Homo sapiens: one gene and its partners. The protein of the gene in region 1 binds, or shares a complex with, the protein of each later gene. Each region holds a gene or a part of one and is shown in the gene's direction. Other genes may lie near its edges. The genes, in order: DCAF12, MAGEA3 and CCT5.

Evidence for each region.
Region 2: the proteins of DCAF12 (region 1) and MAGEA3 are in contact, whole or in part, in a cryo-EM structure (PDB 8T9A), measured with the Homo sapiens proteins. Residues at the interface, in NP_056212.1 of Homo sapiens: Lys91 (codon at 6,082), Phe93 (codon at 6,088), Lys108 (codon at 6,133), Cys141, His144, Phe188, Arg203, Arg256, Val300, Arg344, Tyr410, Phe411, Tyr422, Leu440, Pro441, Ser442, Gly443; in NP_005353.1 of Homo sapiens: Arg310 (codon at 7,351), Glu311 (codon at 7,354), Gly312 (codon at 7,357), Glu313 (codon at 7,360), Glu314 (codon at 7,363).
Region 3: the proteins of DCAF12 (region 1) and CCT5 are in contact, whole or in part, in a cryo-EM structure (PDB 8AJM), measured with the Homo sapiens proteins. Residues at the interface, in NP_056212.1 of Homo sapiens: Lys91 (codon at 6,082), Phe93 (codon at 6,088), Lys108 (codon at 6,133), His144, Trp186, Phe188, Arg203, Lys254, Arg256, Glu298, Val300, Arg344, Phe411, Tyr422, Leu440, Pro441, Ser442, Gly443; in NP_036205.1 of Homo sapiens: Gly537, Glu538, Ser539, Glu540, Glu541.

The regions. Positions count from the first base shown.
Region 1 is NC_000009.12:34,123,663-34,131,166, reverse strand, and holds the start of DCAF12 (DDB1- and CUL4-associated factor 12), read left to right. Parts: upstream 1-4,468; 5' UTR 4,469-4,735; coding exon 4,736-4,813; intron 4,814-5,889; coding exon 5,890-6,144; intron 6,145-7,504. UniProt on the Homo sapiens protein: Substrate-recognition component of a DCX (DDB1-CUL4-X-box) E3 ubiquitin-protein ligase complex of the DesCEND (destruction via C-end degrons) pathway, which recognizes a C-degron located at the extreme C terminus of target proteins, leading to their ubiquitination and degradation.
Region 2 is NC_000023.11:152,694,410-152,701,881, forward strand, and holds the start of MAGEA3 (melanoma-associated antigen 3), read left to right. Parts: upstream 1-4,384; 5' UTR 4,385-4,420; exon of another isoform or gene 4,421-4,665; intron 4,666-4,796; exon of another isoform or gene 4,797-4,855; intron 4,856-4,896; exon of another isoform or gene 4,897-5,379; intron 5,380-6,148; exon of another isoform or gene 6,149-6,212; 5' UTR 6,213-6,278; intron 6,279-6,358; 5' UTR 6,359-6,423; coding exon 6,424-7,368; 3' UTR 7,369-7,472. UniProt on the Homo sapiens protein: Activator of ubiquitin ligase activity of RING-type zinc finger-containing E3 ubiquitin-protein ligases that acts as a repressor of autophagy. May enhance ubiquitin ligase activity of TRIM28 and stimulate p53/TP53 ubiquitination by TRIM28.
Region 3 is NC_000005.10:10,245,762-10,253,370, forward strand, and holds the start of CCT5 (T-complex protein 1 subunit epsilon), read left to right. Parts: upstream 1-4,518; 5' UTR 4,519-4,579; coding exon 4,580-4,684; intron 4,685-4,775; exon of another isoform or gene 4,776-5,132; intron 5,133-7,609. Other genes in the region: ATPSCKMT (ATP synthase subunit C lysine N-methyltransferase), read right to left, coding at 4,097-4,112. UniProt on the Homo sapiens protein: Component of the chaperonin-containing T-complex (TRiC), a molecular chaperone complex that assists the folding of actin, tubulin and other proteins upon ATP hydrolysis.

The DNA.
Region 1 (7,504 bases):
CTGAGGTCGGGAGTTCGAGACCATCCTGACCAACATGGAGAAACCCCATCTCTACTAAAAATACAAAAACATTAGCCAGGCGAGGTGGTGGGCACCTGTAATCCCAGCTACTCAGGAGGCTCAGGCAGGAGAATCGCTTGAACTCAGGAGGCAGAGGTTGCAGTGAGCTGAGATTGCACCATTGCACCCAGCCTGGGCAATGAAGCGAGACTGTCTCACAAAAAAAAAAAAAAAAAAAAAAGAAAAGAAAAGAAAAATGAAAGAAATTTCCAGGCTAGGCATGGTGGCTGATGCCTGTAACCCCAGCACTTTGGGAAGCCGAGGTGGGTGGATGACCTGAGGTCAGGAGTTTGAGACCAGCCTGGCCAACACGGTGAAACCCTATCTCTACCAAAAATACAAAAATTAGCCAGGTGTGGTGGCGCAGGCCTGTAGTCCCAGCTACTTGGGAGGCTGAGGCAGGAGAATTGCTTGAACCCGGAAGGCAGAGGTTGCAGTGAGCTGAGATCGTGCCACTGCACCCCAGCCTGGGTGGGAGAATGAGACTCTGTCTCAAAAAGAAAAAAAAGAAATTTCCAGAACCTCAGAAGGCTCCCTGAGGTCCCCTGCCAGTTAGTAATCCCGCTTAAGGGTAATGACTGATTTCTCTTACCATGGATCAGTTGTGCCTGTTTTCATACTTCAAAAACATGAAATTAGGCATTTACTAATTACATTTAGGAATTACTGCTTTGGTTGGCCTCAGTGTCTCATACCTGTAATACCAGCACTTTGGGAGGCCAAGGTGGGAGGATCGCTTAAGCCCAGGAGTTTAAGACCAGCCTGGGCAACCAGGCGAGACCCTGTCTCTACAAAAGATAAAAAATAAGCTGGGTGTGGTGGCACATGCATGCCATGCCACTGCACTCCAGCCTGGGCAACAAAGCGAGAACTTGTCCCTCAAAAAATAAAAATAAAAAAAGGAATTACTGCTTTGTGTTTGACTTTTTTGGAGACAGGTCTGGATCTCCCAGGCTGGAGTGCAGTGGCATGATATTGGCTCTCCACCTGCAACCTCCACCTTCTGGGCTCAAGCTATCCTCCCACCTCAGCCTGCCAACTCCCAAGTAGCTGGGACTACAGGTACATGCCACCCCACCCAGCTAATTTTTGTATGTTTCTATAGAGACAGGATTTTCCCATGTTGCCCATGCTGGTCTCAAACTCCTGAGTTCAAGCAATCTACCTGCCTCAGCCTCCCAAAGTGCTAGGATTACAGGGGTGAGCCCCGTGCCCAGCAGTGTGTTTGATTTTTTTTTCTTTTCTTTTCTTTTTTTGAAACGGAAACTCATTCTGTTGCCCAGGCTGGAGTGCAGTGGCTCGATCTCGGCTTACTGAAGCCTTGGTCTCCTGGGTTCAAGCGATTCTCCTGCCTCAGCCTCCTGAGTAGCTGGGACTACTGGCGGGCACCACCATGCCCAGCTAATTTGTGTATTTTTAGTAGAGAGGGGGTTTCACCATGTTGGCCAGGCTGGTCTCAAACTCCTGACCTAAGGTGATCCACCCGCCTTGGCATCCCAAAGTGATGGGATTACAGGTGTAAGCCACCACGCCTGGCCTGATATCTTTTATGCAATATTATAAAATTCATTCACACAGTTTTGTCAAGGTGAAATAAAATATATAGATGAATCTCTAAAATTAAAATGTTTTGTGAAGCAGGAATTGTAATTCAGGGCACACGCAGACTGGGTGGTCTTTGCCATGTCTGCAGAACAAAGAGAAGGTTGGAAGTTTTGTAAAAAGGAAGTGTTATGTATTGCTCTTCAAGAAAGTTCACTGGCACTAGTAAGGTTTTGGAGAGCTGGCAAGTTTTGATTGGTAAGTGAAGGCAATAAGTAAAACTATTTCTGAGAGTCACAGTAGGTTGTTTTAACAGCTATTAGATAAAACTGCTTTCAGATTATAGCACGCAGTTTCAGCAGTGAGGCTCACTAAGAATGCCATTCTTGGAGTAGTTACATGCCCTGAGTACTTTTTCCCCCAGCCACTCTACTACTTTATTATTGTTATCATTATTATTTTATTATTTTATTTTTTACACAGGGTCTTGCTCTGTCACCCTGGCTGGAGTCCAGTGGCATGATCTCAGCTCACTGCAACCCAGCTACTCAGGAGGCTGGTCTCGAACTCCTGACCTCAGGTGATTGGCCCAACTCGGCCTCCCAGTGTGCTGGGATTACAGGCGTGAGCCACCGCACCTGGCCTGCAGTCTTTTAAAGGCAATTGTCAATTAAATTTCCAAAATGGACTTTCATTCTGTTATTTGAATAGAAATGGTGAGCTCTTGGCCAGCCGTGGTGGCTCATGCCTGTAATCCTAGCACTTTGGGAGGCCGAAGTGGGCGGATCACCTGAGGTCAGGATTTTGAGACCAGCCTGGCCAACATGGCGAAACCCCATCTCTACTGAAAATACAAAAATTAGTGGGCAACCATCCTGGCTAACATGGTGAAACCCCGTCTCTACTAAAAATACAAAAATTAGTGGGCAACCATCCTGGCTAACATGGTGAAACCCCGTCTCTACTAAAAATACAAAAAATTAGCCAGGCGTGGTGGCGGGCGCCTGTAGTCTCAGCTATTCGGGAAGCTGAGCCAGGAGAATGGCGTGAACCCAGGAGGCGGAGCCTGCAGTGAGCCGAGATCGCACCACTGCACTCCATCCTGGGCGACAGAGCGAGACTCCGTCTCAAAAAAGAAAAAAAAAAATTAGCTGGGCAACGTGGCGAGCACCTGTAATCTGAGCTACTCAGGAGGCTGAGGTAGGAGAATCACTTGAACCCAGGAGGCAGAGGTTGCAGTGAGCCGAGATCGTGCCACTGCACTCCAGCCTAGGCTACAGAGTGAGACTCCATCTCAAAAAAAAAAAAAGAAAAGAAATCGCGAGCTCTGCTATAAGGTACATTTGGGGATGGTTCCTAGGTTGTGAAGATGAAGTAAAGGAACTTTGAGAAAGAGACTGCAGCAGTGCCCAGTGTGCCCCTCTTGGCACTGACAGCCCAATCTGAGCCTAGAGATTCTCAAAGGATTCCAGACTCTTGCCCAGGGGCTCTTGGGTCATCCAGAGCATTGCGGGGCAAGACAGAATTAGAACAGACTCAAAAAAGAAAGCTGACCCACTCCTGACCCACTCACTATGTGCATATCTCTAAAGGGACAGGCCTGACCAAATAAGATGGAGCTGCCTTTCGCAAGACATTAGGGGTTAGTGGTAGTGCCGACTTGGGATGGCAGGAGACCCTGCTTCAATCTGGTCTTTGATTCGGCTTGGAAAACAAATCCAAATCTCCTTGTTGACAGAACTTGAGATGGTCCAACAGAGCTCCTTGGAGGTATGAGGCCTGAGGCCTGAAGCCTGAAGTGACCAGCAGGTAACTGGGCACCACAGCCTGAGGCCAATCAGCCCCAAGCAAGAGCATCCTGCTTCCTCAGAGGGTTTGTTTGCTTGAGGAAAGCGAAGGCTGGCAGTCATATTCCTTCAGGATCTTCCAAAAATGTTGGCAAGGGTGATCCTGATGAAGCCCCCTTGTTTGGAGGCCAATGCCAGCTCTAACTGGACTGGCAAGCCAAAAATGACCACTCTCTTTCCTGTAGTTCAGAATTCCCGACCTGCCCTAATGGAGACGCAACCTGAATCCAAGAGTGAGGCAGGCAGCTACAGATAAGTTTACAGCGTGATGACTACTTCATAAAGCACAAAAGACCATGTGGTTTAGATGGCAGGTCATGGAAATCTAAAGGGAATGGTGAAGTTGCACCGTAAGGGGAAGGTGACTGAGGAGCTGAAACTGACTGAGGGGCTGAAGCATTTCGGACAGGAGAAAGGATCAGGAGGAGACAGAGCGGAGAATGGAGCCTCAGGGCTACCCAGCGGTGGGAAGAGGGTAGCCAGAGACTCGTAGGGCGGCCTGGGTTGGTTGTGCTGGGCAGGTTCTCAGTGGTGGGAAAGTCTGGCCACACTGCCCTGACTTCCTGACTGGACTTCACCTCGAGGGTGGGAGCGGTTCCTGCCCCCCACCCCCCCACCCCCCTGTCCAGCCCTTGGAGCCAGGGCACGGTTTGTGACAGATTCAGGGAAACGTTTGGTGCCAGATGGGAGGTAACCGGGTTAAGGCCTGCACTAGGGAGGATTCCTTCCCCCAGCAGCACTGGTGGTCCTCACTTCCGGGTGCCTGCGGATAGGCGGGCTGGGGTCGGAGGTCGGCGGCCAGAAGCCAGATTCCCTTGGCCCCAGCTCGTCCACTTCCATCCAGCAGTAGCCAAACAACCGTTGAAAATGGCCTGGCGGCGGCCGGGAAACACCAGAGAACTATCTTCCAACCCCTAGATCCCGCCCATCTCGTTCCGGCGGTGTTTCCGTGGCGACGCTATCCGAAGTGCGGCTGCGCAAGGGTGACGGCGCGCGAGCAAGGGGGAGGGGGTGTTTTGGTTCTAGCCGCTCGCCGTCCTTGCAGGCTCTGCCGTCGGAAAGCCGCTCATTCTCGCTTCCCCTTCCCTTTCCCGGCTCAAGTCCTTCCTCTCTCTTTCCTTTCTTTCCGCCTATCTTTTTTCTGCTGCCGCTCCGGGTCCGGGCCATTTTCCGGGCCGGGCGCACTAAGGTGCGCGGCCCCGGGGCCCAGTATATGACCCGCCGTCCTGCTATCCTTCGCTTCCCCCGCCCCATGTGGCTGCGGGGCCGCGGCGGCGCTGCCCACTATGGCCCGGAAAGTAGTTAGCAGGAAGCGGAAAGCGCCCGCCTCGCCGGGAGCTGGGAGCGACGCTCAGGGCCCGCAGGTGAGGGTTGAGAGGCCGGCACCTGGGTGGTGAGGCTGAGGAACCAAGATGGGCTTAGGGTCCGCAGATCCTGCGACGGGAATCGGGGTCCAGGGTCTGCAGTCAGAGGCAAAACAGGAATGGGTTCAGGGCCTATAGGGTCAGGACTGGACCCTCGTTAACTGGAGGGCAGATAGGCCAGGGCGGTGAGGAGCCAAAGGGGAACTCAGGAATGGGACATAATCCGCGGGAGGCCTGCATTCGTGGATAGGGCTTGAAAAGAAACCAGAATCTTGGCTTTGGAGGAAGGGGAAACCGAAGTTAAGGGAATCGGAAACAAACTCTGGTAGAGTGAACTCTACCTTCCATGGGCCCTAGGAAGCTGGGATGATTGCGTCCCTCCTGGAAGAAGGAAGTAGTCTCCCTATATGTATACCCAACCCTGAGCTGGGCCTTTCGGCGTTTGGACCCCAAAAGAAACAACAGTTCCCAGGTATCATCTCTATGCCGCCCCCTTTGGAGGGGAAGGCCTTCTTGGACATAGATATGGCCTCTGATTTCCCGGGGGCCTACTACCCCGTTGGCGGTTGATTTTTCGAATTCTGCAACTGCCTGGAGCGCGGGCATGATGACAGAGGAACGGTCATTGATGATGCATCCCTGGAAGACCTGGGAGCCAGGTCTGGCTCCTTGGACTGTATCTTCCGTGCTCCAGTGGGAGTACAGACTGAGAGGGAGAAGGGGGCTGGGTAGAGATGCAGCCCATGTCGGTATGGGAATCACTCTACCTCTCATTTCCTTCAATCTTTCACTCCTAAAATGTCTAGTAAACCTTTTAGTCTGTTCTATTCTGCATTCATTCCCTTGACTTTCAGCCCTTGTAATTCACATTGGTAAGTTTGACTGTGAGCAACATCTTTTTAATGTTGGAAGAGTTAAACGACTTTCTGGATTGAGATTCTTGTTCTCTTGTGTTTGTATTTGTGTTGTTTGTAAATTCTGCAGTATGAGTTATGAGTTGGTGATTTCTGTAATACAGTAGGATCTGTTCTGAAGAAGAGTAGCCAAAGCCCTGATTTCTAATGTTGTTTCCACAGTTTGGCTGGGATCACTCGCTTCACAAAAGGAAAAGACTTCCTCCTGTGAAGAGATCCTTAGTATACTACTTGAAGAACCGGGAAGTCAGGCTACAGAATGAAACCAGCTACTCTCGAGTGTTGCATGGTTATGCAGCACAGCAACTTCCCAGTCTCCTGAAGGAGAGAGAGTTTCACCTTGGGACCCTTAATAAAGTGTTTGCATCTCAGTGGTTGAATCATAGGCAAGTGGTGTGTGGCACAAAATGCAACACGGTAAGTGCCTGGGGGGATGTGACCTCTCTCCTAGGTCGTGGATATATTGCTCCACTTGCTCTAGAACCTCTGCTAGTTTTCCCGTCTGTTTCTTTTAGGAGGGACTTGCCTTACTCTCCTTTCCATTCTTTCCCGTTGGTGACTTCTTCCTCTTTTCGTGTTCCTTTTTTCACTCATACATTTCTTTTCTGATAAGTCCTCAAAGGAGTGTATTTCTTCAGGCCCTCTCTGGATGTGCTGCTTCTAGAGGGTTGTTTGTTTGTTTGTTTGTTTTTGCCTCATATTTTTATGCTGGTTTTTAAGTCATAGGCCTCAAAGGAAAGATTTAAGAAATAATGATGCTTAGAGCATCATTCAGGATACATAATAGTGAAAACAGCCTAAGAACGTATGTCGAAGTATTTAAAATAGCACACTTGGCTGTTTTTTAGTGAACAGAATCTAAAAATGTATAAACTGAAATATGAGAAATACATGAACTGTTTCCTATAAGGAAGGCAGGGAATGTGTGTCTGGTAGTATATTTCAGGGTATAAGCATTAGCTCTTTGGAAAGTAGCCTTTTTAAGAGTGAATAGAAAGACAGTTATAAATGAATGAAGTGAAAAATTTCTCAGTAAGCTTTGTAACCAACCCAATTATAGGCCAGGATAAAATAAGTCAAAGAGCAGAAACGTTTGGAATAGAGTCCACGAATAGCATGATGTCACAAGACTGGCAAATGAAAAGAGGCAGGGCCTAGGGCCTAGGGGTGGGAAATGATTACGCCCAGCCCTCCCTCGGTTTTCACCTCCCCTGTGTGAATGGACAAGTAATGTCATAATGTGTGAGTAAATTGACCCTGGAATGAAACACATTTTGGATCATTAAAAGAGAGAAGATTGCTCTAGATCAAGAAAGTCTTAAGTACTAGGAGAAGTGTCTGTTTATAAAGGACATAGGCAAAAATTTAAACAGTTTTAAGGAAGGAAATAATACCATGGTGGTTGGTCTGTTTATAAAGGACATAGGCAAAAATTTAAACAGTTTTGAGGAAGGAAATAATACCATGGTGGTTGGGGCCAACCTTTCGTTTCCTCTTCTGTTGAGGAGTCGCTTGTCTTACCCAGAAGCCTTTCAAAACTAAGTGGTGGCAACGGGCCTCCACAGAACTTCCTTTTCTTGGTCTCTCCAGCTGCCCACTCGTGGTTAAGAACTGTCATCCTTGTCACTTGGAGTAGAAAAAGAGTCTCCTGCTTGGAAGAGTTCATTCCACTCCCCGCACGTGCATCATAGTGTTTAGCCTAGCAAATATTACTGAATTGTAAACTGAATTAATCATCATAGCCTCTTGCTTGTTGAATTTATTGACACTATTTTGA
Region 2 (7,472 bases), on another chromosome or scaffold:
AATCACAGACCTAATGCAAAATGCAAAAACTATACAACCCTCTATAAGAAAACATAAGAGAAAATTCACATAACTTTGAGTTCAGTGGTGAGTTTTTAAATTCAACACCAAAAGCATGATCAATGAAAGAAAAATTTACCAAGTAGATTTTATTAAAATAAACATCATGTGCTCTTCAAAGGACAATGTTAAGAGAATGAAAACAGAAGCCACAGACTAGCAGAAAACATCGGTGGTACACATATGTGATAAAGAACATATCTCTACAACATACACGAATTCTTAAAGTTCAACGACAGAAAAAACATGAAAATAGGCAAAGATCTGAACACACTCCTCACAAAAGAAGATATACACATGGCAAATAAGCATAAAAAAGTACTGAGAATCCGTTCTCATTAGATAACTGTGTACTAAAATGAGATACCACTACACACCTATTAGAATGTCCAAAATCCATAAAAAAGCAAAAAAAAAAAAAAAAAGAAAAGAAAACCAAGATCAATTGCCAGGGAAGATGTGGAGCAACAGAAACTCTCATTCATTGCTGGTGGAAATGCAACATGGTACAGCCACTTTGGAAGACAATTTGGCGTTTTCTTAAAAAACTGAACACAGCATAAGATTCAGCAGTCATAATCAATTTACCCAATTGACGTGAAAACTTACGTCTACATAAAAATTTGTATACGATTGTATACAAAAGATTATTTCATAATCACCAAAAATAGAAGCATCCAAAATGTATTTCATTTGGTGGATGGATATATATATACACACGCACTATGGTACAACCAGACAATGATACTACTACTCCTCAATGAAAAGGAATAAGTTCTGAGCCACACAAAGTTATACATGACTCTTCAGTTCATTATGCTAGGTGAAAGAAACCAGTCTAAAAAGGCTACATAGTATGCGAGTCTATTTATATGACATTCAGGAAAAGGCAAAATTATAAAGATGAAACACCTATCAGTGGCAGCCAAGGGGGTTATCTGACAAGCACAGGGGATTTATCAGGGCAGTGAAACTAGTATGGTAATACTGTAATGGTGGATGCATGCTTGCTTTCATCTGAATATTTGTGTTCCCACAAACTTCATCTGCTGAAATACCAAGGTGATGGTATTAGGTAGAAGGTGGGGTATTTGGAGAATGACTAGTTCATGAGAGCAGAGTCCTCATGAATGGGATCAGTGTTTTTATAAAATAGACTCCACAGAGATCCCTTGCCCCTTCTTCCATGTGAGGACATAGGGGAAAGGCAACTGTCTATGAACTAGGGAGCAGGTCTCCATCAGACATGAAATCTGCCAGCACCTTGATCTTGGACTTCCCAACCTCTAGAATGTGAGAAATAAAGTTGTGTTGTTTATAAGCCACCCAGTCTACACTATTTTTGTTATGGAAGCCCAAAGGGACTAAGACAACGGCACGAGGCATTTGTCAAAACCCATAGATCTTTACAGCACAAAGAGTGAAGCTTAATGTATGTAAAGTCTAAAAGTAACTTAAGAAGTTGGAGAATCATGGGACAGAATGTAGAATGTTACACACACACACAAACCTAGCTGTATTATACATGTATGAAACCACTACAGTGAAGCAAGTGGCGGGAAAGTTACCATATTTGGGTACTCCATCAAAGAAATATGTTTTTTATAAAGTATAAGTCGGCCAGATAAGCATGTAAAATAGTTGAATATTTGATAATCATTTATATAATTTTTCAGATATGAAAACTATTGGGATTCTGTTTAATAAAACGTCCTTATCTTTTAAAAATGCATATTGAGTTATTTCGAGATGAAATGGTCTAATGCCTTAGATTCGCTCCACGTTATTCCAGAAGCTGATGTGCAGGTAGGCAAGTGTCTAACTGGAACCAGATTTGCTGTGTATTTAAAGTTGTTCATGCTGGGTATCTAGTATCCTGGGTTCATTACATTAGTTCCTATTATTCTGTATGTGTGAAGGCTTTCCCTAGTAAAACTTTTTTTATAATAAATATGCCATTAAAAGTGAAATCCTAAATGAAACTGACCACTTTGTAGAAATAAAATAAACCAGTAACCAAACTGATCCAAAAAGAAAAAGAAAACTTTAATTAAACTATAAAAACTGAAACTGTACAATGTTCAAAGCTCAAGCCACCTTCAAACATTCCAGGTTAGGCAGTATTGGAGGCCAATTCTACCAAATGATCAGGGAAAACTAACCACCATCTTATCTCATCTCTTCTAGAACATACAAAATATTTACAATTGTTCAATTCATTCTTCCAGACTAGCCCTCCTGGATTCAAAAACCAGATGAGGACCACATCCCACCCTTGATGGGAAAAAAAGCACACATTAAGTAAGCTCCCTTACATAGCAGCAAATATCCTACGTAAATTACTAGCATATTAAATAAACAGGCTCTGCCCAAGGAAATAACATACGGTTTAACATTAGGGGAAAAAAAAAAAACGGTTTCATTGTAATTCCTTACATACAAAATGGAGGAGAAAAAAATTTGATTGTGTCAACGGGTACAGAAAAAGCTTTTTAAAGAAATTTAATATGAGTTCATGGTAAAAAAAAAAAAAGTATTTAACCTATATTCAAAGAGAAATTGCACTTCCTAAAATCAACAGCAAACATACTTAAATGCAAAACGTTCGAATAATTATCATTCACGTCAGGAACGAGAAGTAGATGTAGGCTATTATCTCTACGATTGAAATCAGGATTGAGACACAAAGAGCTATAAGTACCAAAATGAGTAAGTGGTATGAATACTGGAAGAATATGTAATGTTTAGTGATAATACCATTATCGATCTTGAAAATTCAAAGGAAAAGGTATGTGGAATATTCAAGTGCATCGGCCTTCAGAACGAGGAGTGCAACAGATTACTACAGCAAAATCAAAATCTTCACCTCACGAAAGCAATAACTAACTACAACAATTAATAGACAATATGCCATTTGCAATAGCAACAAAATTCATGAATTGCCTGAAAAGAAGTCTAATAAAAATGTATAAGGTCTTTATAGAGACAACTGTCGAAGTATACTGACATATTCAGGTAAAAAAAAGCTTGAAATACATAGAGGAGTATAACATATTCATTCATGGGGAGCACAACACTGTAAAAATGTAAACTCAGCTTAAATTATTTACAATTTAGTGCCTTACCTGTAGCCGCCGCCATTACAACAAATTTGGGCTGCTGTGCTCTGCTTCCCAAATCAAACCTGGAAAATTACAGAATGGAAACAGTAAATAAAAAACCAGTATCAGCAACAAAATCTACGCAACAAAACAGGGAAAGCCCAGGGTGAGACTCAAGGCTGTGTTGAGCTGGTACTTGTGTTTGACACTTGCAGTGTTGGTTGGAGGGGGTTAGCAGCAGGGATGTTGGGGAGGTTTGTAGCCGGCCTACACGGTAGATGACAGAATGGGTAGAATAAAAGTTTGAAATTTTCCACTTCACTTCTTTGCACAATCTGAGGCAGCCTCTGAAAACACGATGCCAAGAGCCCTAGGTAATAGCAGGACACCAGGAAAATTTGGTTGGTTAAGGCAGTATGACTCCAGAGTTCTGCTAATAACAACCTGAAACCACCATAGTGGCAGAGGAATTACATTTTTAAAAAAAAAAAATTCTTTCAACAGAACACAAAGACTGAAATAGGAGGTCACTACAACCGCGGGAGCTGCCGCCCCGCCCTGCAGGGAGCACCTGGCCTGGGACCCGCAGGCATTCTCTACAAGGGGTGCAGCTGTGCAAATGCTCACAGGTGACAGAAACAGAGCATCTCCTGCCCATCACTTCATCCAACAGCCAGAGGTGACGAAGACGACCCTCCTGAGTGAGGACTGAGGGTCCACACCGCCCCCCCACCCCACACACCATAGAGGGACCACAGAATCCAGCTCAGCCCCTCTTGTCAGCCCTGGTAAACGCAGGCAGTGATGTCACCCAGACCACACCCCTTCCCCCAATGCCACTTCAGGGGGACTCAGAGTCAGAGACTTGGTCTGAGGGGAGCAGAAGCAATCTGCAGAGGATGGCGGTCCAGGCTCAGCCAGGCATCAACTTCAGGACCCTGAGGGATGACCGAAGGCCCCGCCCACCCACCCCCAACTCCCCCGACCCCACCAGGATCTACAGCCTCAGGACCCCCGTCCCAATCCTTACCCCTTGCCCCATCACCATCTTCATGCTTACCTCCACCCCCATCCGATCCCCATCCAGGCAGAATCCAGTTCCACCCCTGCCCGGAACCCAGGGTAGTACCGTTGCCAGGATGTGACGCCACTGACTTGCGCATTGGAGGTCAGAAGACCGCGAGATTCTCGCCCTGAGCAACGAGCGACGGCCTGACGTCGGCGGAGGGAAGCCGGCCCAGGCTCGGTGAGGAGGCAAGGTAAGACGCTGAGGGAGGACTGAGGCGGGCCTCACCTCAGACAGAGGGCCTCAAATAATCCAGTGCTGCCTCTGCTGCCGGGCCTGGGCCACCCCGCAGGGGAAGACTTCCAGGCTGGGTCGCCACTACCTCACCCCGCCGACCCCCGCCGCTTTAGCCACGGGGAACTCTGGGGACAGAGCTTAATGTGGCCAGGGCAGGGCTGGTTAGAAGAGGTCAGGGCCCACGCTGTGGCAGGAATCAAGGTCAGGACCCCGAGAGGGAACTGAGGGCAGCCTAACCACCACCCTCACCACCATTCCCGTCCCCCAACACCAACCCCACCCCCATCCCCCATTCCCCATTCCCATCCCCACCCCCACCCCTATCCTGGCAGAATCCGGGCTTTGCCCCTGGTATCAAGTCACGGAAGCTCCGGGAATGGCGGCCAGGCACGTGAGTCCTGAGGTTCACATCTACGGCTAAGGGAGGGAAGGGGTTCGGTATCGCGAGTATGGCCGTTGGGAGGCAGCGAAAGGGCCCAGGCCCTCCTGGAAGACAGTGGAGTCCTGAGGGGACCCAGCATGCCAGGACAGGGGGCCCACTGTACCCCTGTCTCAAACCGAGGCACCTTTTCATTCGGCTACGGGAATCCTAGGGATGCAGACCCACTTCAGCAGGGGGTTGGGGCCCAGCCCTGCGAGGAGTCATGGGGAGGAAGAAGAGGGAGGACTGAGGGGACCTTGGAGTCCAGATCAGTGGCAACCTTGGGCTGGGGGATGCTGGGCACAGTGGCCAAATGTGCTCTGTGCTCATTGCGCCTTCAGGGTGACCAGAGAGTTGAGGGCTGTGGTCTGAAGAGTGGGACTTCAGGTCAGCAGAGGGAGGAATCCCAGGATCTGCAGGGCCCAAGGTGTACCCCCAAGGGGCCCCTATGTGGTGGACAGATGCAGTGGTCCTAGGATCTGCCAAGCATCCAGGTGAAGAGACTGAGGGAGGATTGAGGGTACCCCTGGGACAGAATGCGGACTGGGGGCCCCATAAAAATCTGCCCTGCTCCTGCTGTTACCTCAGAGAGCCTGGGCAGGGCTGTCAGCTGAGGTCCCTCCATTATCCTAGGATCACTGATGTCAGGGAAGGGGAAGCCTTGGTCTGAGGGGGCTGCACTCAGGGCAGTAGAGGGAGGCTCTCAGACCCTACTAGGAGTGGAGGTGAGGACCAAGCAGTCTCCTCACCCAGGGTACATGGACTTCAATAAATTTGGACATCTCTCGTTGTCCTTTCCGGGAGGACCTGGGAATGTATGGCCAGATGTGGGTCCCCTCATGTTTTTCTGTACCATATCAGGTATGTGAGTTCTTGACATGAGAGATTCTCAGGCCAGCAGAAGGGAGGGATTAGGCCCTATAAGGAGAAAGGTGAGGGCCCTGAGTGAGCACAGAGGGGATCCTCCACCCCAGTAGAGTGGGGACCTCACAGAGTCTGGCCAACCCTCCTGACAGTTCTGGGAATCCGTGGCTGCGTTTGCTGTCTGCACATTGGGGGCCCGTGGATTCCTCTCCCAGGAATCAGGAGCTCCAGGAACAAGGCAGTGAGGACTTGGTCTGAGGCAGTGTCCTCAGGTCACAGAGTAGAGGGGGCTCAGATAGTGCCAACGGTGAAGGTTTGCCTTGGATTCAAACCAAGGGCCCCACCTGCCCCAGAACACATGGACTCCAGAGCGCCTGGCCTCACCCTCAATACTTTCAGTCCTGCAGCCTCAGCATGCGCTGGCCGGATGTACCCTGAGGTGCCCTCTCACTTCCTCCTTCAGGTTCTGAGGGGACAGGCTGACCTGGAGGACCAGAGGCCCCCGGAGGAGCACTGAAGGAGAAGATCTGTAAGTAAGCCTTTGTTAGAGCCTCCAAGGTTCCATTCAGTACTCAGCTGAGGTCTCTCACATGCTCCCTCTCTCCCCAGGCCAGTGGGTCTCCATTGCCCAGCTCCTGCCCACACTCCCGCCTGTTGCCCTGACCAGAGTCATCATGCCTCTTGAGCAGAGGAGTCAGCACTGCAAGCCTGAAGAAGGCCTTGAGGCCCGAGGAGAGGCCCTGGGCCTGGTGGGTGCGCAGGCTCCTGCTACTGAGGAGCAGGAGGCTGCCTCCTCCTCTTCTACTCTAGTTGAAGTCACCCTGGGGGAGGTGCCTGCTGCCGAGTCACCAGATCCTCCCCAGAGTCCTCAGGGAGCCTCCAGCCTCCCCACTACCATGAACTACCCTCTCTGGAGCCAATCCTATGAGGACTCCAGCAACCAAGAAGAGGAGGGGCCAAGCACCTTCCCTGACCTGGAGTCCGAGTTCCAAGCAGCACTCAGTAGGAAGGTGGCCGAGTTGGTTCATTTTCTGCTCCTCAAGTATCGAGCCAGGGAGCCGGTCACAAAGGCAGAAATGCTGGGGAGTGTCGTCGGAAATTGGCAGTATTTCTTTCCTGTGATCTTCAGCAAAGCTTCCAGTTCCTTGCAGCTGGTCTTTGGCATCGAGCTGATGGAAGTGGACCCCATCGGCCACTTGTACATCTTTGCCACCTGCCTGGGCCTCTCCTACGATGGCCTGCTGGGTGACAATCAGATCATGCCCAAGGCAGGCCTCCTGATAATCGTCCTGGCCATAATCGCAAGAGAGGGCGACTGTGCCCCTGAGGAGAAAATCTGGGAGGAGCTGAGTGTGTTAGAGGTGTTTGAGGGGAGGGAAGACAGTATCTTGGGGGATCCCAAGAAGCTGCTCACCCAACATTTCGTGCAGGAAAACTACCTGGAGTACCGGCAGGTCCCCGGCAGTGATCCTGCATGTTATGAATTCCTGTGGGGTCCAAGGGCCCTCGTTGAAACCAGCTATGTGAAAGTCCTGCACCATATGGTAAAGATCAGTGGAGGACCTCACATTTCCTACCCACCCCTGCATGAGTGGGTTTTGAGAGAGGGGGAAGAGTGAGTCTGAGCACGAGTTGCAGCCAGGGCCAGTGGGAGGGGGTCTGGGCCAGTGCACCTTCCGGGGCCGCATCCCTTAGTTTCCACTGCCTCCTGTGACGTGAGGCC
Region 3 (7,609 bases), on another chromosome or scaffold:
GATTTTGCAATAATACTATCCTCATAGGATTCTTGGAACAGGTAAATAATGTAAACAAAGCATTTAGCACAAGCCTGAGAGGCTAAGTAATGACTATTAATTGCTATTATTATTCTCAATACTATCATATGCAAGGAGGGGCTCAATTTTTAACAGCTTTGAGATATAATTCATATACATACAATTTGCCTGCTTAAAGTATATAATTTAATGTTTCTTTTTATATTCAGATACATGCAACCATCACTACAGTCAATTTTTGAACATTTTTATTACCTCAAGAGGAAACCCCTTATCCTTTAGCTATCACCCCCGCATCCACCCTCTATCCCCCAGCCCTAAGCAACCACTAATCTACTTTTTGTCTCAAGAATCCCCTATTCTGGGGCCTGGCACAGTGGCTCACGCCTGCAATCCCAGCACTTTGGGAGGCCGAGGTGGGCGGATCACTTGAGGTCAGGAGTTCCAGACCAGCCTGGCCAATATTGTGAAACAACAACTCTACTAAAATACCAAAAAAAAATTAGCCAGGCATGGTGGTGCACACCTGTAATCCCAGCTACTTGGGAGGCTGGGGGCAAGAGAATCACCTGAACCGGGGAGGCAGAGGTTACAGTGAGCCAAGGAGCCAAAATTGCACCACTGCACTCCAGCCTGGGAGACAGAACAAGACCCTGTCTCTCAAAAAAAAGAAAGAAAAAAAAAAAAAAAGAATCCCCTATTCTGGACTTAAAGGAATGGAATTGTATAGTGTGTGGACTTCTGTAACTGACATTTTTTACTTAGCATGTCTTCAAGATTCATCCAGGTTGCAACTTGTATCAGTTCTTTATTTCTTTTTATGGCTTAATAATATTCCATTGTATGGATATGCCATATTTTTGCTTACGCATTTGTTCACCAAGTTTATTAAACAAACACAAGTCAGATGACCCAAATTTCATTTTTCACCTGTGTAGATATGTACCTTTCAATTCAACCAGCAAAAGATGTAATAAAAAGTTCCTGTTCTTCACGGCCTCCCATCTAGGCAGATGAGGGGTGGGGTCCAGGAGAGGCAGACACAGGGCTGGTTGTGAGAAATGCTATAACACAAACAAAACGCTACAGGCATATGGGAGAGGCGGAGGAAAGACTGATTCCAACAATGGGACCAGTGAGGTGTTGGCAGAGAGAATATTTGAGCTGGAGCCAAAAGCAGCAAGCCTTGGAACCAAGGTGTGGAAGGCAGGGAAAGCCTTTCTGGAGCACAGAGTGAGAGACAAACAGGAAGGCAGGCCTCTGAAGGCCAGGCTGAATGTGTATTTTATTCTATGTGCACTGTGATGAAACTTTTTGAGCAAAGTCACCATAATATTTGTGTTTTTAAGAAAGGCAACACAGGGGCAATGAGTCTCTTGATGAAATCATTCTATTTTCTGTCCCAGGTTTTGATGCCTGCAAGTCTTGCAACGTAACAAACATTTGCATGGGGAAATCAAGATCCATACCCATTGCTGGAGCTTTGGAAGAAGTTACTATGTACATCCAATATAGGATGTACAATATAGGAACTACATTGTTAGCTCCATTCAGGAAAAACAATTGATTCCTTTTTGCGATGGGGTCTCACTCTGTCGTCCAGGCTGGAGTGCAGTAGCACAATCACAGCTCACCACAGCCTTGACCTCTCAGGCTCAAACGATCCTCCCACTTCAGCCTCCCAGGTAGCTGGGACTACAGGCACATGCCACCACACCCAGCTAATTTTTTAAATTTTTTTCTTTAGAGACAGGGTCTCCCTATGTTGCCCAGGCTGGTCTCAAACTCCTGGGCTCAAGCAATTCTCTCGCCTCAGCCTCCTAAAGTGCCTCCATGCCAGGACCTGTATTGATTCTTATCAGTAAAAATCAGGCCCTGAATATTCAAAACTAAAATCAAGACTGTTTCTACAAATCCTTCTAACGGAACATGTTCAGACTCCCAGACTATCCTATATATAAATGGCAAGAACTTTCTTTCAGGTGTTCTTTGGAACAAGGAGCCATTCTATTAAATAATGGCTGCAGTGGCCACTGGCTACTTTCATTGAGCACTTAGTAGTCCATCCTTTAAAGTCAAACACAGAATGAGGTTAACTTCTACTGTGTCCGGGCCCTGCTTGCTTATTGACTTCTAATATTGGTTGAAAACTTCAATTTTTAGTGGCAGATTTGGATCAGCTGAAGCTAGAGGCAGTGACAGATGTACAATAAGGTACCCAAGGTTCTTATCCAAGTTCAAGCCAAAAGAAAAAGGCCAAGAAGAGAGAAGGAGCCTGTTAGGAATAGTAACTAGCCACGTGTTTAAAGCGGGCTTATATCAGAATGTCACAACTCATAAGGACTGTTCATTGTGCACTTGTATGTGCATACCTGTTTAATAACTACAGCATATGTTATGTCCCTTTAGCATATATTCTTATGTCCTTAAGAAGCCTTTCTTATACTAGTCTAATGTCATTTGTGTCCTTTTGACATACATGAGCTATTGATATTAGGAAAAATCCTCTCTCACTCCCCAGTGTTTTGACAGGGAATCAACTACACAGAGGATGCCATAGGACATTCTATTTTTCACAACAATCGAAGGAGCCAAATGAATTGCAGAAGTCACCATTTTTAATGAGGAAACACTGAATTGGCAAAGCTAACGTGAAATAAGACCTGACTCCAAAATCTAAAATGTCCTTGAAGAACACTTCAAGGTCTAGCGCGTAAGTATGCCAAGCATGAAGAGTTAACAGATCACCAACCATCCCATGACAGTCAGTCCTCCCTGTTTTTAGAGACAGAATCTCGCTCTGTCGCCCAGGATGGAGTGCAGTGGCGCGATTATAGCGCACTGTAAACTGAACTCCTGGGCTCCACCCATCCTCCTGCCTCAGCCCCAGAGTAGATGGGAACACAGTCGCCAAGTCTGTTCTTGAGTTTCAGGACAGGGTCAAATGTTATAGTGCATGTATTCATTTCAGCACTTATTGAGTGCCTAATAAAGTCTGGGAATAATACAACTTTATTAGTTAAGTCCCTGCCCATGGCAGTAGGGGAGAAGCAAGGATGGAAACCCTCAACAAATAAATCTAAACCTATCAAATATTAAGTCATGATCTTGGAGGGCGGGGAGGAAGGCAGCATAAGAGATTTAGAGGACAGCTGCGGTTGCCAAGATCTTTCTGAGGCAGCATAATACAGGGCTTAAGAGTGAGACCTGCCGGGCACCGCGGTGGCTCAGGCCCAACACTTGGGGAGACCTAGACGGGTACATCACTTGAGGTCAGCCGTTCGAGACCAGCCTGGCCACTACGGCGTTAACACCGTCTCTACTAAAAATACAAAAATTAGCGAGCGTGGTGGTTCTGTGCCTGTAGTCCCAGCTGCCTGGGAGGCTGAGGCACGAGAATCACTGGAACCCGGGAGGCGGAGGCTGCAGTGAGCCGAGACCGCGCCACTGCACTCCAGCCCGGGCTACAGTCTTGTCTCAAAAAAAAAAAAAAAAAAAAAGAGTGTGGGACCCATTGCATCAGGCTGTGTAACTGTTTCTTACTAGCTGTATACCAGTGGCAAGTTACTGAACCATTTGTGCAAAATGTTAATTTATTTACCAACACTGTGTTCAGCTTGCCAGGCACCGTTCTCCTTGAATCTCACAGCAGCCCTGTGAGTAGGCACTACTGTTACCACCGTCACTTTGCAGACAGGGAACCCGAGGGACAAAGAAGTTAAGGGATTTCCTCAAAGCCACAGCTAGGAAGAGCGGCAGAACTGCGATTCCAATCCATCAGTGTGCCTCCACTATCCCTATTCCTTAAGATCGTGCCAAAGGCTGAGTCACTTGCACTAAGTAGCCTAGAACAGTCTCTGGGGAAACGCGCCCGCCGACAAGGATCGCCAGAACCGGCGCGGGCACCGCGCGGCGACCAGGAGCTCTGGTCACCGAAGGCCAGGCTGGAGGCCAGAGCAGCCGCCCGCACCCGGTCACCGCCTCGACAGTGGAGACCTCAGCTGACCGCGAGCCCCCGGCCCGCCCGCACCCCTTCTCATGCCCCCAGGAACCCGCCAAGCCGCTCCAGCCTCACCTCCTCCTCCCTCCATCGCGAGATTTCCAACAGCGTTTTTAAAAAAAAAAAAAAAAAAAAAAAAAAAAAAAAAAAAACCGGAAATGGGTCCTACCATCTTCTCGGAGCCGGAGTGCGAAGAAATAAAGAAATAGTGCTTTAAGTCAATGAATTCCTCCTTGGGACCCACTATCGAGAAACTATCAGTGGTAACGTTTTAAAAAATGACAAATTCAATCTGCTCTTGACTTGTGTGTCCTAAGATTTCCACTAAGTGTCTTCAAACCTCCCCCTCCCCGGCTTCCTGGATAATAGAAGTTCCCGAAGGCCGCCGATTCCAGAAGATACTGTCTGGCGTGAAATTAGTCTCAGTAGAAACATAAGTCCCGCGCGTCTTGTGCTGCGCGTGCGCAAGCTTTTGGGCCCTCCCGAGAAAGGGAAGTGCATTCTCGCTTCCGTAGCGGTCTCCGCCGGTTGGGGGGAAGTAATTCCGGTTGTTGCACCATGGCGTCCATGGGGACCCTCGCCTTCGATGAATATGGGCGCCCTTTCCTCATCATCAAGGATCAGGACCGCAAGTCCCGTCTTATGGGACTTGAGGCCCTCAAGGTAATGGCACAGGGACCTGCTCGCGGTGGGCTAAGGGGAGGTGGCCGAGGCCGTGGCTCTGCGCCTGCGCGAGTTGAGGAGCGGCTCTGCCATGTGCTCCCCGGAAAGGTCGAGAATCTCCGTCTCCCTGCGGTCTCCGGCCGCTCAGCCCGCTTACTGAGCTCGGGAGACGCCGGCGCCTAATCCTGGGCTCGGAATGTGGGGGCCAGCCAGGCTGGGCCGCCAGCGCCCTTCGGAGCTGGGTGGGGCCGCTCAGTCCGGTCGCCCGCGGGAGCAAAGCGGGACCGCCTCCCCGCCCGGCTCCTCCAGCCTGACGGCCGCGTGGGACTGCGCTCCAGTGGGAGGGCGCCGGGGAGATGCTCTGTCACCTGTCGGTTAAGGCGCTGCTGCTTAACCTTTCGCTGGTCCACCCGCAACGGCCCTTCCGTTTTCTTTGTCACTCGTAAAGGTGTGGTCACTTAACAGGGTATTTCATTTCTGAGTGCTTTTTTGCCCACCCTTGAGGAAAAATAGCGAAGAGTGAAAAACGGACGCACATAACCGTAATACAAGGTGGTGTGCAGTGAGAAGGACAGCTACGGAGAGGGTGCACATAAGCGTGGTGCTGGAGGACAGCTTTAGATCGGGGTGAGAGGTAGCATTCTAGGGAGAGGAAACGGTAGAAGTAAAGGCTTGGGCAAGAATGCGCATGGCACGTTGTAGAATGGAAGAGCCATCCGGTTTTAATGGAGCACTGACTTCTTTAACTTACAATAGTTCCCGAAGGTGGAAGCTATTGAATGCCCAACATGGAAAATACGACGTTATCTTTGGGGAAGAAGGGGAGCCATTGAGGGGGTTTTGAGCAGAATTTCAGTAGAGCTGCACTTCAGGCAGCAAAGCTTGAGATAGACCGAAGGGAATAAGGAAGACCAGAGGGGTTAAAGAAACCAGGGCAGGGGTGCAGGTAAGAAACATCTGAGCACCAGACGTTGACAGAAAATGCAGAGGAAGGGACACTCCGAGAGGGCCTTCAGGGTTTGTTATAAAGTGAATTCATAATAGACCATTCCACTAGGTCTCTCAGGTGTCCCTGTTCACTTAGTGTCTTGGAGGTTTACTTACGCAAAGTTAGAAACAATACAGTTCCCCTATGGACTCTTTGTTTGACTTAGTGCTAGTTACACAACCTCGCGGAACCTCCTTTTCCAGGGGGAGGTGATAGGCCTCCGTCAAGCTGAAGACTTGACAGTGATATTAAATGGAGTGACTTAGAGGGGCTGCACAGTGGTTGATCCACGGTAGGCACTCAGTATTTGTTTCCTTTCTAGAAAGAAAAAGTTTCAAGCTAATTGTATTATGTATTCCATTTTATTTTCCACTTAACAGGGACCTGCAGAGAAAATAACATCCAATACACACACCTGGTGTAACAACATAACTAAAACTAGGTTGTTTTGCATCAGCCATTTTGTTCAAACTGCATGCATTTGTGCCCAGAAGTCGCACACTCTGAGACAGGGTTATTTTACAAAACTGGGGACTTGGGCCCAGAGCAGTTGAGAAATTGTTCTGAAGAGCAGTTGCTACTAAAGAGCATTACCATGGTCAGGGCCACCGCTGTCAGAGTCAAAGCCAGTGGTCTAGAGCAGCATTCTCAAGTTTGGCATATTGACATTCGAGGTCGGATCATTCTTTGCTGTGGGAGCTCATTTGGACAGTAACCTGGGTGTTTAAGTCTCTTAAAAGAGTTGGATGCTGTTGGTAGGCATCCTGTGAGTGTTGAGGCTCAGCAGTTTAGGGATATACACTTGCTCCCTGACCTCATAGAACGTCCAGCTAACTTGAAGAACCAAAATATATGGAAATTGAAGGCAACGGTAAAAGAAATGTATAGGCCAGGACGTGAACGTTTTAATGGTAATGGTCACAGTTCTTTCTCTCTGGTCATTTAGAGCCTTAAAGGTAATATGTATTTTGTTGAGATTCTTCACTTGTTTAACACTTAACTGTATAATATTTCACCTTAAAAATGCAGGCATTGACTGGGCGCGGTGGCTCACGCCTGTAATCCCAGAACTTTGGGAGGCTGAGGCAGGAGAATCGCTGGAACCTGGGAGGCAGAGGTTGCGGTGAGCCGAGATCACGCCACTGCACTCCAGCCTGGGTGACAGAGTGAGACTCCGTCTCAAAAAAAAAAAAAAAAAGGTGCAGGCATTAGTTGGCTTAGGAAGGAATCATATTCTAAAATCCTGTAACCTAAAACAGAGCAGGCTAAGTTTCCAGGCCAGCCAGCATAATTCTGTTTTATCCATAATATGTATTATGCCTTGATGTTTGATACTCTTCCCTCTGGAAACACACAGAACTAGCAGAAGGAAGAAAAAGGTTTTTTCCACGTTGCCGAGCAGTAGGGCAAAATAGATCTCGGGATTTCGGGATCTCTCCTATTTGCCAAATTCTTTACATCCTTTTCTTTCTGCCTCTTGCTTTCTCCTTAAAAATAATAATAATAATAATTCTATTACTCAATTTGGTAGCTAAATGTGAAAAAAAAAACAGGTAACTTTTTTATTATCACTTTGACAGCTACTTACCTTCCTTAAGAGGGCCAGTTTCAGCCGGGCGTGGTTGCTCAAACCTGTAATCCTGGCACTTTGGGCAGCCAAGGCAGGTGGATCACCTGAGGTCAGGAGTTAAAGACCAGCCTGGCCAACATGGCAAAACCCTATCTCTACTGAAAATACAAAAAAAAATGAGCAGGGCGTCATGGCGCGTGCCTGTAATCCCAGCTACTGGGGGGCTGAGGCAGGAGGATCGCTTAAACCCGGGAGGCGGAGGTTGCAGTGAGCTGAGATCATGCCACTGCACTCCAGCCTTTTTGAGACACAGCAAGACTGTCTCAAAAAAAAAAAGGCCAGTCAGTAACTTTGATCTATAAATATA